Homo sapiens: one gene and its partner. The protein of the gene in region 1 interacts with the protein of each later gene in a biochemical or structural test. Each region holds a gene or a part of one and is shown in the gene's direction. Other genes may lie near its edges.

What was found.
Region 2: the proteins of OLR1 (region 1) and SLITRK4 form a complex in vitro, tested with the Homo sapiens proteins (one large-scale study listed by IntAct).

Annotation. Positions count from the first base shown.
Region 1 is NC_000012.12:10,159,586-10,162,439, reverse strand, and holds part of OLR1 (oxidized low-density lipoprotein receptor 1), read left to right. Parts: intron 1-1,514; coding exon 1,515-1,654; intron 1,655-1,924; coding exon of another isoform or gene 1,925-1,977; coding exon 1,978-2,093; intron 2,094-2,418; coding exon 2,419-2,560; 3' UTR 2,561-2,854. UniProt on the Homo sapiens protein: Receptor that mediates the recognition, internalization and degradation of oxidatively modified low density lipoprotein (oxLDL) by vascular endothelial cells.
Region 2 is NC_000023.11:143,626,102-143,629,945, reverse strand, and holds part of SLITRK4 (SLIT and NTRK-like protein 4 precursor), read left to right. Parts: coding exon 1-1,351; 3' UTR 1,352-3,844.

The DNA of each region.
Region 1 (2,854 bases):
AAGCATCAGTTTGGTGAAAAATCAACTTAGTGTTTTGTATGCTCTTTCTCATTCACTTTTTTCTGTTTTTCAGTCCCTCCTATTTTCTCCTCTCTGATAAAGCCTACTCTTATACATTTATTTAGTGGTTTTATGCCACAGTGAGAATGAAATTAAAATGCTGCCTTTCTCAAAGATTTTAATTTTTCACCTTTTGGTTGTAGTGTAGACCAGAGTACTTTGTTTCCCCTTAAGGAGATGGGAGAGATGATGATGATGATGGTGATGATAGTGATGATTTGAGGGTTCCTGAAAGCATCCATAAACATGTAGACATTGGTATATTTTGCCTATTGTCTAAGTCCTGTTTTTGGTTTGGTGGACTCCCTGTGAATTTTGCTACTGAAAATCTCCTTATTTTCTAAAATCTCGTTTAAATTGAGATCCTCGCTTTATATTAATATACTATTTTCCCTAGAACAACTCTGTACAAAAGAAATATAGTATGTGTTTTTTATATATATATATATATATATCATTAAAATTTCTAGTAACCACATAAAAATGAAAAAGAAGCAGATAAAATTAATTTTAGAAACACATTTTATTTAACCCAAGATATTTGAAATATTATTTCAATACTAATCAGTATAAAAATTTTTAATGGACTATTTTACATTCTTTTTCTTTTTCAAATTAAGTTTTCAAAATCTTTTGTGTGTTTTACACTTATAGTACATCTTAATGCAAACTAGCCGGGTGTGGTGGGTCATGCCTGTAACTCCAGCACTTTGGGAGGCTGAGGCAGGAGGATTGCTTGAGGCCAGGAGTTCAAGACCAGCCTGGACAACATAGCGAGACCCTGTTTCAATTAAAATAATTTGTTTTAAGAAATGCAAACTAGCTATATTTCTAGTACTCAAGAATCACATATGGCTACTGTATTAGACAACACATGTCTGAAAGCAAGACACATAGTATTTAAGCCTAGATTCATTATTCAAAGATATGAAATTTTAAAATGCATAGCATTACTTTTTAAAAATAGCAGAATGGCTATTAAATATCTGTTCTCCCAACCCTCACTTTCTTTATTTCCAACACAACTTTAAAAAATAGATCAGTTTCTAAAATTACATGCTAGCTTAACTTGCTTTTCATCAGGGGAAGTGAAAATGCTAAATGAGAAGTACATTTAGGTTGCTAAAATCAGTATGCTTTCTTTCTTTCTTTTTTTTCCCAAAAAATGAAGAAATAAGGACTCTGAGGCTATTTAGGTATTTGCAGAACCTGGGTAAAATTTTACTTAAGAAGTAGTGTGGGCAGGGCGCGGTGTCTCACGACTATAGTCCCACTACTTTGGGAGGCTTGGCCTACATGGTGAAACCCCATCTCTACTAAAAATACAAAAACAAAAACAAAAACAAAAATAAATAGTATGCACGTGAGAGAACTAAGGGGATCATTGATTTAAGAACTGCAGTACTGCTTTTACACAAACATAACTGACTGATGAGATATACTATCCTTCCCAGCTCCTTGTCCGCAAGACTGGATCTGGCATGGAGAAAACTGTTACCTATTTTCCTCGGGCTCATTTAACTGGGAAAAGAGCCAAGAGAAGTGCTTGTCTTTGGATGCCAAGTTGCTGAAAATTAATAGCACAGCTGATCTGGTGAGTGTTCATGGATATTTGTTGGGGTGGAGTATTGGTTGATAGGGAAATTAATCTGGTTTAAACTGTCACTGGAGGAATTCTTGTTTGAGAGCCAAAATGTCTGTTTTTTTAGCTTAGTCTGATCACCAATTTTGTGTATGACCTTGGACGGACAGGCTCTGTAGTATCTCTAGCCTTCAGTAAGTGTTTCCGTAAAACAGTCAAGGGGATGTCAAAGATACCTTTTGGTTCTTTAGTTTTGTGGATCCAACACTAACTGACTTTCAGATTCTAAAACCACCATGTGGATTCCACAAACTCAGAAACATTACTCCCCACAGGACTTCATCCAGCAAGCAATTTCCTATTCCAGTTTTCCATTCTGGATGGGGCTGTCTCGGAGGAACCCCAGCTACCCATGGCTCTGGGAGGACGGTTCTCCTTTGATGCCCCACTTGTAAGTTTCCCATTCTTTTTGATGCCTCTCTCGTCAGTTTCCTATTCTTTGCTGAACCTGCTAGTGAGGTCACTGCCTGCATCCCACCAATGTCCTCTTCTTGCCAGAGAGAAGCTTGGGGGAATTTCTCAAAGTCTCCTTCCTTACCTCTTTCACAAAAAGATTTACTCATTAACCATTCAGACATTTTCTTGAGTTTTCCTTCCCACATTTATTACTGATTGGAGGCTTTAAGACAAAAAGTTTCAAAAGCTAAGTTTCTGAAACAAGGTGGCAGTAAACCTAAGTTTTTTTGTTGGTTTGTTTTGTTTTTTCCTACCTGCAGATTTAGAGTCCGAGGCGCTGTCTCCCAGACATACCCTTCAGGTACCTGTGCATATATACAACGAGGAGCTGTTTATGCGGAAAACTGCATTTTAGCTGCCTTCAGTATATGTCAGAAGAAGGCAAACCTAAGAGCACAGTGAATTTGAAGGCTCTGGAAGAAAAGAAAAAAGTCTTTGAGTTTTATTCTGGAATTTAAGCTATTCTTTGTCACTTGGGTGCCAAACATGAGAGCCCAGAAAACTGTCATTTAGCTGGCTGCAGAACTCCTTTGCAGAAACTGGGGTTCCAGGAGCCTGGCACCTTTATGTCAACATTTTTGATTCTAGCTACCTGTATTATTTCACCTAGCTTGTCCCAAGCTTCCCTGCCAGCCTGAAGTCCATTTTCCCCTTTTTATTTTAAAATTTGACTCCTCTTCAAGCTTGAAAACCCTC
Region 2 (3,844 bases), on another chromosome or scaffold:
CATCAAGGATGTGGACGTATCAGACTTCACTGACTTTGAAGGACTGGATTTGCTTCATTTAGGCAGCAATCAAATTACAGTGATTAAGGGAGACGTATTTCACAATCTCACTAATTTACGCAGGCTATATCTCAATGGCAATCAAATTGAGAGACTCTATCCTGAAATATTTTCAGGTCTTCATAACCTGCAGTATCTGTATTTGGAATACAATTTGATTAAGGAAATCTCAGCAGGCACCTTTGACTCCATGCCAAATTTGCAGTTACTGTACTTAAACAATAATCTCCTAAAGAGCCTGCCTGTTTACATCTTTTCCGGAGCACCCTTAGCTAGACTGAACCTGAGGAACAACAAATTCATGTACCTGCCTGTCAGCGGGGTCCTTGATCAGTTGCAATCTCTTACACAGATTGACTTGGAGGGCAACCCATGGGACTGTACTTGTGACTTGGTGGCATTAAAGCTGTGGGTGGAGAAGTTGAGCGACGGGATTGTTGTGAAAGAACTGAAATGTGAGACGCCTGTTCAGTTTGCCAACATTGAACTGAAGTCCCTCAAAAATGAAATCTTATGTCCCAAACTTTTAAATAAGCCGTCTGCACCATTCACAAGCCCTGCACCTGCCATTACATTCACCACTCCTTTGGGTCCCATTCGAAGTCCTCCTGGTGGGCCAGTGCCTCTGTCTATTTTAATCTTAAGTATCTTAGTGGTCCTCATTTTAACGGTGTTTGTTGCTTTTTGCCTTCTTGTTTTTGTCCTGCGACGCAACAAGAAACCCACAGTGAAGCACGAAGGCCTGGGGAATCCTGACTGTGGCTCCATGCAGCTGCAGCTAAGGAAGCATGACCACAAAACCAATAAAAAAGATGGACTGAGCACAGAAGCTTTCATTCCACAAACTATAGAACAGATGAGCAAGAGCCACACTTGTGGCTTGAAAGAGTCAGAAACTGGGTTCATGTTTTCAGATCCTCCAGGACAGAAAGTTGTTATGAGAAATGTGGCCGACAAGGAGAAAGATTTATTACATGTAGATACCAGGAAGAGACTGAGCACAATTGATGAGCTGGATGAATTATTCCCTAGCAGGGATTCCAATGTGTTTATTCAGAATTTTCTTGAAAGCAAAAAGGAGTATAATAGCATAGGTGTCAGTGGCTTTGAGATCCGCTATCCAGAAAAACAACCAGACAAAAAAAGTAAGAAGTCACTGATAGGTGGCAACCACAGTAAAATTGTTGTGGAACAAAGGAAGAGTGAGTATTTTGAACTGAAGGCGAAACTGCAGAGTTCCCCTGACTACCTACAGGTCCTTGAGGAGCAAACAGCTTTGAACAAGATCTAGGTCATGTAATCTTACTTCATACAGAGGACATTTATTTAATGATGAAAGTGCCTTTTGTTGACTTCTAACTTCCAAATACTATATTATCAATAGGCATGGAGGCAGGTGTTTCCAAGGGTGTCTCATTAACTGTAGCTGCAAAGATGTGTCAAGTAGAAGAGAATTTGTTTAATAGATTTTACTACATAAAACCTATACTGTGGAGTCCTGTGGGGATACTGCAAACTCTATTGCCAAAGGGATGCTTTATACACATAATACTGAATTTAACCTCAAGAGGCAAATCTGTTTTGTACCCCAATGCAAAACCTTCGTCTCTTTGTGCTTTGTAAAGCAAACTCAAGAAAACTGGTACACCTGTACCAGCTGGGTCCTTTATCTTGCACGTAGATTAAGTTGGTGGAACTGGAATAATCCTTTTGATTTGTGGCATTGTAACAACTCCGTGTAAAGATTATCTGAAAAGTAAAAAAAAAAAAAAAAAAAAAAAAAAAAAAAAAAAAGCATGCAAAGAGAGAACACTCGATAGTATTTGTAAATTGGTAACCTTTATGGCCTGCATCTTGAAACCGCTGGATTTATAATGTTAATTTGTGCAAATACTTGTTTAAAATATAACATACATTACATAACTATAAAATAAATTTGAACACTTTAAGCATTACCTGTCTATACATAAAAATCTAAAAGAAAAAATCAACGTGAGTTAGATAGCATTTGTGATGATCTGAAGAAATATGTGACGTTTATCAGAATTAAACATGGCTCAAATTAAACTAACACTAGAGTTTGTTCTCAGTTACGTGAAACACCCACAATCCTTCAAGGTTGTCCAAAATAAGCAGAGTGCTTACTGTGTGAGCGCACCCAAAGCTATTTTTGTAACATAATTCATATTTATGAAGTACTTTGTATACTAAATAGGAAAATATGTACTCCTTAATATGTATTTAATATGCCTGACTTGTTTTCCTGATCACAGTGAATTTATCAGTAAGTATAAATGTAGACAGAAAGAAATATACTAAACTGAAACAAGCTGGTGTGAACAGAAATATTCTGGACTTTGTGATCAGGTGTAACTTAAAAACAAAAAAAATTTAAAACAAACAGAAAAGAAAAAAATACAAAAGAACAGTCAATTCTGTGCTATTCTTGTGAATTTAGCGTATTATCTTCAGATTTGTTACCAATTGTGCATTCAAAAATAAGTTCCTTAGTTTTCTAGTATTGTGTCTGGGGCAGTTGTTATTTGCCATCGGTTGTCTTGCTTTTCAGGATTCTATGAGCTTAATTCAAATAGTTTTCGCTACAAGTATTTAAAAAATAATGAATAAGGTTAATAGTTATATCTTGTATGCATCAGTATCCTGTTCTTTCATCATTCAGACTACTATCAGATAATCTAGTAGAACTGTAAACATCATGGTAATCTTGGCTATGAAAGCCACACTGTAAAAATGCTTGCATTGGTTTCAGATGAGTTCACAGTCTGCAACTACAAATGATATGCCCCTGTGTTTGCTTTTGCTAAGATCTAAGTCAAAATTTGTTAAAGGAATAAAGTAACTGATAATGGGTGATGTCGGAACTTTTGTAGGAGCTCCCGATTAACAAAGTGATATTCAGAAACACATTGTCTTCTTGGCCTGCCTGCATATATATATATAGATATATAGATATATATAGATATACATATATATATATGTGTGTGTGTATATATATATGCGTGTGTATATATATGTGTGTGTATATATATACATATATGTATGTGTGTGTGTATACATATATATATAGTGTGTGTGTGTGCATGTGTGAGAGTGTGTGTCCTATCTCTTATAATTACCTTATGAATCAGTAAGATAACCAAGAAGGTAAACATAGCCATTCCTCATGATTGCAAGTGGCATATTTTTTCTGTTGCAGCTTCCAAAATGATACTATGTTTATAGTTGCAGTAGCTGTTCCTTTATTAATCACTAATTTCAGGGCTTTATGTGTTTGTTGCAAGACAAAAAAAAGAAGCTTGGCTTTCTTGGGTGTGTGTGTATGTGTGTGTGTGTCTGAGTGTGTGTATATATATATATGTGGGTATATATTCATACATATAGATAATTTGGAAATCTTTTTTAAATAGCAAAAACCGTCTCCATGTGTATGTGCTGGTGCTCTTAAAACTTTAGTGTGTAATTTTAATTTTTATGACATCTGTGAAAACTTTATATGAATATAAAATAATTCAAACAAATAATTGCTTTCTGATCTTGAAAGAAAAGACAAGATGTGTGCCCAACAGCTTTTTTCATCTACAATTTCATAAGGACTTTTGATATGCCATTACCATGCATGCACACATCCATGGATTAAAGGGCTCCTAATGTATACTGACAGGATAAAGATGCAAAGGCTTCAAAGAAAGTGTTTTAGTTTAGTCTGTCAATAAAGTATGGCTTGAAGGATCTTAAATAGACACTTATAGGAGGAATCAGAAAG